Regions from separate parts of the Homo sapiens genome. Here region 1 is linked to region 2. Evidence: fine-mapped expression QTL. A gene starts in region 2. The other region holds a variant in brackets. All regions are shown on one strand. Distances are between the middles of the regions. Region 1 overlaps IKZF3 (IKAROS family zinc finger 3). Region 2 holds the start of GSDMB (gasdermin B).

What was found.
Region 1: its variant is fine-mapped to the expression of GSDMB in whole blood (TOPMed, PIP above 0.99).

The regions. Positions count from the first base shown.
Region 1 is chr17:39,819,282-39,823,674 of GRCh38, forward strand. The region is part of intron 3 of IKZF3 (IKAROS family zinc finger 3); the gene reads right to left. Among named protein-coding and RNA genes, the nearest start is that of IKZF3, 43 kb to the right of the region's middle. The variant C/T (reference allele first, on the strand shown) is at 1,909.
Region 2 is chr17:39,916,434-39,920,757 of GRCh38, forward strand. GSDMB (gasdermin B) reads right to left here and starts at 2,202. Exons shown (of 11, transcript NM_001165958.2): 1 at 2,101-2,202; 2 at 649-897. The coding sequence starts at 883. RefSeq lists an enhancer at 1-250, promoters at 802-1,431, 982-1,390, 2,114-2,476 and a cis regulatory region at 2,455-2,468.

The DNA of each region.
Region 1 (4,393 bases), 97 kb before region 2:
AAACCAACAGTGGCATAGGGATCACTATTTCAACTACAAATTTAATGGTATTACCTACCAGAACTCAGAAACTGTAACTCAGAAAAAAAACAAGCCACAGGCACAGCTATCATTTGCCTCATTCTGAGTGAGACTCCATGGATGTCACCTTCAAGAAGTTGCACGAAGCTGATACAACATCATATGCCTTTCCTCAGCACAAATGACCACATCCTGTGCCAGGCAGCATTTTTCTGTCTCTGTGGTTAAAAACTGGTACAAATTAATGTATAGCTCAGTACAGCTGGAATGTTAGTTGAAGCTGTGATTTGAATCTCAGAAGTTTTAGACAAATAACTCAATTTCTTGGTCTCTTAAGAAATTTAAGACAAAAGAAAAAGACTCTGAGAAATGATTTTCTTTTCTTGAAAAGGAGTCTCACTCTATTGTCCAGGCTGGAGTGCAGTGGTGCAATCTTGGCTCACTGCAACCTCTGCCTCCTGGGCTCAAGTGATCCTCCCACCTCAGCCTCCCAAGTAGCTGGGACTACAGGCACACACAAAGCTAATTAAAAAAAAATTTTTTTTTTGTAGAGATGGGGTTTTACCATGTTGCCCAGGCTGGTCTCGAACTCCTGACCTCCAGAAAAATCCGCCCACCTTGGCCTCTCAAAGTATTGGGATTACAGGCGTGAGCCAAGCCACTGCACCCAGCCTATTTTCTTTTCTTCCTTTAAGAAACTCATGTATACACACATATAACTGACCTAGGGCTTTCATTTAGTCACTTACTCAACAAATATTTATTGCACACCTACCACAGTAGGGCCAGGTACTGTTCTAGGTACTGTAAATATCTAGCAAGGAAAAAAATAGCCCAAGAAGGCTGGAAGGAGAGTAGACACTAAACAAAACTCCAAAGTTATCTGTGTTCAGTGTCATGCGATGAATTAAAACAGGGCTGTGTTAAAATAGTGACTGAATTGTCAGGAAAAGCTTTTCTGAAGAAATGACATTTAAGATGAGATCTGAGTAACAGAGTAACATTCATAAAGCAAAAGTGATTAGATTTATCAACATAAATATCACTATAAAATGTGAGCAATATTAATGTGAATATAATGCTCAAAACTCACAAAAAAGCCTGGAAGTAAGTACTCTGTAATGCTATTAGAGACTATCTTTGGGTGGTAGGATAGAGGTGGGGTTTTCTTTTTTCTTTCTATTTCAATGAACTTTCCAAACTGTGGTATAATACAAAAACATATTTGGTCTTTGTTCCTGCTCCCAGGATCAAGCACAGAACTTCTAAGCCCTTGGAATTTCCTAAGTGATAGGAGTATTGTTTTGCTTTGTTTTGTTTTGTTTTGTTTTTCTCACTAGATCCTCCTGCCTCAGCTTCTAAGTAGCAGGGGCAGGAGTGTCTTTTGTATTCATAACGAGCCCCTTTCAATAGCACCTTAGATTATGCTAACGAGGTAGCTGAGGCTGGGGCCACTAGACAGCCTCAGGATGGAGCTGTTCACCAGAAGGACCTGGTAATTAGAGCGTTGGACCTTTCAGCCCCACCCAGTGACCTCAGGGAAGAAGAGAGAGGAAAGGGAGCTGGAGATTGAGTCCTATAAACGTTCTTGAACAACAAGATTCAGAGAGCTTCAGGAGCTGGGGGTGTGGCATGCCCAGAGAAAGTATGGAAGCTCCACGTCACCCCTTCCTTGCTCTATGCCTCCCTTCCATTTGGCTGTTCCTGAGTTGTATCTTTTATAATAAACTGGTAATGATAAGTAAAGAAACTTTTTGAGCTCTGTGGGTCATTCCAGAAAATTACTAAACCTGAGGAAGGATGTGGGAACACTCAAATTTGCCCAAGTTGGAAGAAGTGTGGGTCACCTGAGGGCCTGGTACTTGAGACTGGTGTCTGAAGTAGGGG[C/T]GGTCTGTGGGACTGAGCCCTTAACCTGTGTGGTCTGTACTAATTCTCAGAGTTAGTATCAGAATTGAATTGAATTGTTGGACACCCAACAACGGAATGGCCTAGAGATTTGGTTGTGGATGGAAAACACCCCAGAATTGGAGTGGGATTTGCTAGATCAGCCCAGGCTCACAGAAACATATGGTTTGGAAGGATAAAATAAAAGGGTAGGGGATGAGGAAATTTTGATTCCTGAGTGGCCATATAGTCACCTAAGGAGCAGCAAAGGGGCTGTGATCAGTTACTAAAGGTAAAAGTTACCAGTGAAATTTAAAGATGAACCCAACTCCTGGGGAGCTGGTTCACTGAATGCTTAAGGAAATGCAAACTAATAAGAAAAAAGTGAAATACACAATCCAATGGTTATTGTTATCTGCAACAGCTAAAATGAAAGTTAAAAAGAGTGTTGGGTTGGACCTTGATGCTGAACCACGCTCAGATTCTGGTGGGCCTGAACTTCGGATGCTAGACCCAAAGCTGCCTCTAATGGAAAAAATATGTGGGAAAAACAGAAAATACCTCTAAGATCTCTGGTCACCAAAAAGAGAGTCCAGGTAGGGGAGGGCAAAACCAAGAAACTACTGAAACCAGGGGGTATAGTGTGAAAGAGTTACTTTATTTTGTAGATCAGTACCATCAGCTTCCTAAAGAATTTTGACTAAAATGAATTGTAAGAATAAATAATTTAGGGGCAGTATCTTGGCTTTTAAATGCTTCAGAGTGGAAGAGCATGTTTGGGTTTATATAGGATCCACAGCTCACTATGGAACAATCACAGATGGCTACACATGATCCAGACACAGAGCAGGTCATTCCTAAGGGAACAGCTGACCTGGTGGACCAGATAAGAGCCATTATAAGGTCTATTTACCCTGAGAAAGGGAACTATCTGACTTCCCCTTTCAATGCCAACTGGAATACCCCAGATGAAGCAGCTGATATGCTTCATATGCAAGCCATGTGGAACTGGCTTTGTGATAATCAAGATTCACACATTGAATATGCCCATTACCCAGGTGATATGGTTTGGCTGTGTCCCCACCCAAATCTCATCTTGAATTGTAAGCCCCATAATCCCATGTCATAGGAGGGACCCAGTGGGAGGTAAATGAATCATGGAGGTGGTTTCCCCCATGCTGTTCTCGTGACAGTGAGTGAGTTCTCACAAGATCTGATGGTTTAATGAGTATCCGATATTTCCCCTCTGGCACTCACTCTCTCTTCTGCCACCCTGTGAAGAGGTACTTTCTGCCATGATTGTAAGTTTCCTGAGGCCTCCCCAGCCATGCAGAACTGTGAGTCAATTAAACTTCTTTTCTTCTTTATAAATTACCCAGTCTTGGGTATTTCTTTCTTTTTTTTTTTTTTTTTTGAGATGGAGTCTTGCTCTGTTGCCCAGCCTGGAGTGCAGTGGCGCGATCTTGGCTCACTGCAAGCTCCGCCTCCTGGATTCACACCATTCTCCTGCCTCAGCCTCCTGAGTAGCTGGAACTACAGGTGCCCACCACCACGCCCAGCTAATTTTTTGTATTTTTAGTAGAGACAGGGTTTCACCATGTTAGCCAAGATGGTCTCGATCTCCTGACCTCATGATCTGCCTGCCTCAGCCTCCCAAAGTGCTGGGATTATAGGCATGAGCCACCGTGCCCAGCTGGGTATTTCTTCATAGCAGTGTGAGAGTGGACTAATTCAGTATATTGGCACCACAGAGAGTGGGGTGCTGCTATAAAGATACCCAAAAATGTGGAAGCAACTTTGGAACTGGGTAAAAGACAGAGGTTGGAACAGTTTGGAGGGCTCAGAAGAAGACAGAAAAATGTGGGAAAGTTTGGAACTTCCTAGAGACTTGGAGGGTTCAGAAGACAGGAAGATGTGGGAAAGCTTGGAACTTCCTAGAGACTTGTTGAATGGTTTCGACCAAAATGCTGACAGTGATATGGACAATGAAGTCCAGGCTGAGGTGGTCTCAGATGGAGATGAGGAACTGCTTGGGAACTGGAGCAAAGGTAACTTTTGCTATGCTTCAGCAAAGAGACTGGCAGTATTTTGCCCCTGCCCTAGAGATCTATGGAACTTTGAACTTGAGAGAGATGATTTAAGGTATCTGGTGGAAGAAATTTCTAAGCAGCAAAGCGTTCAAGAGGAAGCAGGGCATAAAAGTTTGGAAAATTTGCAGCCTGACAATGTGATAGAAAAGAAAAACCCATTTTGAGGAGAAATTCAAACCAGCTGCATAAATTTGCATAAGTAATGAGGTGCCTAATGTTAATTACAAAGACAATGGGGAAAATGGCTCCAAGGCATATCAGAGACCTTCACAGCGGCCCCTCCCATCACAGGCCCAAAGGTCTAGGAGGCAAAAATGGTTTCCTGGGCTGGGTCCAGGGTCACCCTGTTCTGTGCAGGCTCAGGACATGGTGCTCTGTGTCCCAGCTGCTCCAGCTGC
Region 2 (4,324 bases):
CACCACGCCTGGCTAATTTTTTGTATTTTTTTTTTTTAAGCAGAGACGGGGTTTCACTGTGTTAGCCAGGATGGTCTCGATCTCCTGACCTCGTGATCCGCCCACCTCGGCCTCCCAAAGTGCTGGGATTACAGGAGTGAGCCACCGCACCCATCCCTCACTTGATTCTTACAACAGTCCTCTAGAGTTGACACAGGAGGAAACTGAAACTTAGAGCAATAAAACAACTTGTCCAAAGGTTACGCAGCTGATAAGAGGCAGAGCCAGGCTTTGAAACCAGGTGCTTCCAGCCCTAAAGCCTGCATCCTTTCTTAACCAGTAAGCAAACTGCCCTCATTTACTTATTCATTTAAATGATAAACACATGAGAAGAGCTCGCTAAATTAAAAGCAGATTATTTTACAAGGGAAAAAATGGAAAAGGAAGACCATTTAGGAACGGTTTCCAGTGGAAATAAATCTCCACTTCTCCCACTCTCCTCCCACCATGCAGCTCTTCCGTGCATTTCTTAAATTAAGGTGTGTGGATGTGTACAAATCCCACAGTTTCGTTGTTGATTGGTTGATAACAATGGGGAATTGAGAAGGAGATGGAGTACAAACGGTCAAGGCCTCCTGGCTGGCCACCTGTCATCTACCTTATACTGACCTTGGAGCCCAGAATCCAGTTCATCTAACCACTTGTCCCCATCTGTGTCCAGAATGTCCATCAGGGTGAGGCCTGTTGTGTAGTGCCGGCATCCAAAGAAAGTTCTCTTCTCCCCCACCAGATGGAAGCAGCGGAATCTATCAGCATCAACAAGGCTTCTAACGGCAATCATATCCCCTCCAGCATCCATCTCCTTAACTACAATTCTTGTGATTTCCTCAAATACGCTGAACATTGCGCCTGGACCAACTCAGAAACAGAAGCCAATTTCAGTTTTTGGGAGGAGGGTATTGGTTCAAGTATTTAAATCTTCCACATTTGGCAGCCTGAGGTGTCAGGCCTCTGAACCCAAGCTAAGCCATCATATTCCCTGTGACCTGCATGTATACATCCAGATGGCCTGAAGCAACTGAAGATCCACAAAAGAAATGAAAATAGCCTTAACTGATGACATTCCACCATTGTGATTTGTTCCTGCCCCACCCTGATACAATATAGTCTCCCCGCCGCCGCCCTTAAGAAGGTACTTTGTAATATTCTCCCCTGCCCTTAAGAAGGTACTTTGTAATATTTCTCCACCCTTGAGAATGTACTTTGTAAGCCTATCCCAAACATATAAGAACTAATGATAATGCCACCACCCTTTGCTGACCCCTTTTTTGGACTCAGCTTGCCTGCACCCAGCCTTGTTGCTCATATAAAGCCCGTTTCGTGGACTCTCTTCACATGGACGCACGTGACATGAGGTCAAGGAAGAGCCAAAGGTTCCAGGACAATCAGTACCTGGAATGATTTGCCTGCCTTACTTCTAGAACGTGAGGCAGCCATGACTCAGTAAAGAGGGCTAAACATCACAGATCCCAGATTCTCCTCTGCCCCTCATGGTACCCATCTGGAGGAAAAAAGTAGCAGCTATTGCCCCAAATAGAGAAAGTGAGACCCATTTTCTACATCTCCCACAGCAGAGTTGCCCCCTTGTTCCAAGGGGCCCAAGGGATGGAAAGGCAGGCCCACCATGCCCCAGCCAGACTAGCCCCAACGTTGATGAACAGAGGAACCAGGGAGGAATGACGGGCACGGTTGCCAGACTTCACATTACTAACCTCAACTGGTCGTTTCTTCCCTTGGCTCTGATTCTTGGGCTCCCTGCCTTGCTGTATTCTGCAAGGCAATTGGATGGGTGCCTCCCTACCAACAATTTCCCAATGAGGTGGTGGTAAATTGGCCTCAGAAGAAACAAAAGCTTCCTGGGATCCACTTCCCCATCCTACCTTTGGCCACCTTCCCCTATATCCCTTCTGCCCAGCACAGGCACTTATCCACTCACTGCTTCCTCCTCTGTCTCTGGCCCCATCATGGTGGTTGACTCTCAGTTCACTACCAACCTGGGAATTCTAGGTGTCTGGAAAGACAGTACCCGGGAACCACAGGCCCATCTCAAGTGGTACCCACCTCCTCTCTGACCTCAGCTGTTCACCAGAAATGGAAGTTGTGAGAATCCCCACAGATCTCTGCACAGTTCCTGGCCTCTGAATCTCAGGAAGCTAAAATAATGAAACTGAAAGTTGTCCAGGTGTGGAACTTCCTGGACGGGTGGGTAGGGCTGGGTGCCCCACCTCCCAAGCCTTTAGATAAGCCACCTTATAACTGAGCTGGAGGCAGATTAAGGCCAGAACCCCCCTTTTTTTTTTTTTTTTGAGACGGAGTCTTGCTCTATCGCCGAGGCTGGAGTGCAATGGCGCAATCTCGGCTCACTGCAAGCTCCGCCTCCCAAGTTCACGCCATTCTCCTGCCTCAGCCTCCCGAGTAGCTGGGACTACAGGTGCCTGCCACCACGCCCAGCTAATTTTTTTGTGTGTGTTTTTTAGTAGAGACGGGGTTTCACCGTGTTAGCCAGGATGGTCTCAATCTCCTGACCTTGTGACCCACCCACCTCGGCCTCTCAAAGTGCTGGGATTACAGGTGTGAGCCACCATGCCCGGCCAGAACCCCTTCTTCTTCTTGTACCTAAGGAGTGGGTAGGAGATCCTGGTATGTATTCTAGGTGAGTGTGGGCCAGACAATGGTGCACACCGTGGCGCCCTGGGCCATGCAATCCAGTGTGTTTGGAATAGAGAAATGGAATATGAGTAGGTATCAAGTGCCAGCAGGCAATGGCTGTGTCTGTGCCAGGGACATGAGGACCATAACCCAGCAGAACCAGCTGCCCAAATGCCATGCGACGGTCAACACTGAAGACCCAGGACAACAGCAGCTAACACCTGGAGGCAACAGGGTGGGCCTGTAAGGAGCACTCAGCCTCCCTCCCCATCTCGTGCTCCCGTGTACACTCTCAAGGAGATGCTGGTCTTCCTTATCTGGATGCCATCTGGCTTCTCCACCTACCTCCTTCTCCAGGGAGAGGCCTCTGACCTCACCCATGTCCTCTCTCAGAGATAACCACCCCGGTGAGCCCAGCCTGTCTTCCAGCCTCTGCATGCCTCAGTTCTGAAAGAACATTTGAAGGGATGACAGGCCAGGCGTGGTGGTTCATGCCTGTAATCCCAACACTTTCAGAGGCCGAAGCAGGCAGATCACTTGAGGCCAGGAGTTCAAGACCAGCCTGGCCAACATGGCGAAACCCCGTCTCTACCAAAAAAAAAAAAAAAAAAAAAATTAGCCAGATGTTTTGGCACACACCTGTAATCCCAGCTACTCAGGAGGCTGAGGCATGAGAATTGCTTGAACCTGGGAGGCGGAGGTTGCAGTGAGCCAAGATGGTGCCACTGCACTCCAGCCTGGGCAACAGAGCAAGACTCAGTCTCAAAAAAATAAATAAATAAATAAATAAATAGACGACAGTGGTGGTAGTAACAATTACAATTATAATAATATGGCTACCATATATTGAGTATTTACTATATGCCAGGCACTGTGCTAATGCTCACAACAGCCCTAAGAGGCATTATCTTTACACAACAGTGGAATAAACTGAAGCTCAGAGAAGTTGACACAGCAACATGGCTAATAAGTGGCAAAGCTGGGATTTGAACCCAGATCGTTGTTGATGTTCTCCAGCACCTCACCCTGACTATACTCTTGCAGGCTGGTGAAAGCAACCAGGGCACCCCTACTCCCAGGAGTGAAAGCAGTGGCTATATTTCTCTTTCCAATACTGTGTGGGCTCTACTCGGACAGGGGTGGTGGCTGGACTTGGGCAAATATCCCACACTCCCTGACACTCACTCCAAGGGTGCTGTGATGGTGGACCGGGGCTAGAGACCCCAGGCTGCTGGGGACAGCTCCTCCCTTCTACCTGGGACTTTGTGCCTCTCCTGGGAATAGCAGCTGATACTCCCCAGAACACGCTGGAAGGTCAGTGCCCTCGTGAGATAAGGATTCCTTGCTATAGGACTCCTCTCTCTCCTAGCCATGTTGGCCTCAGAAAGTCCCCAGAACCTCTTCCCCTGCCACTCAGGCTTATGGTGGGAGGAGGAAGTATGAAAAGTCCCCTCCACTGAAAGGCCAGAAGGAAACGCAGCGCTCCCAAGGGAGAGGTGACTGGGGAAAGGCCTTGGGGAGAGAAGTGAGAAACTGGAGAAGGGCTGGGGATTCACTGGGAAGGACTGAGCACCACTTGGGACCCTGGCTCCACGTGTAAACCATTGCTGGAGTGTCCCCCTCCTTGGCCATGGCA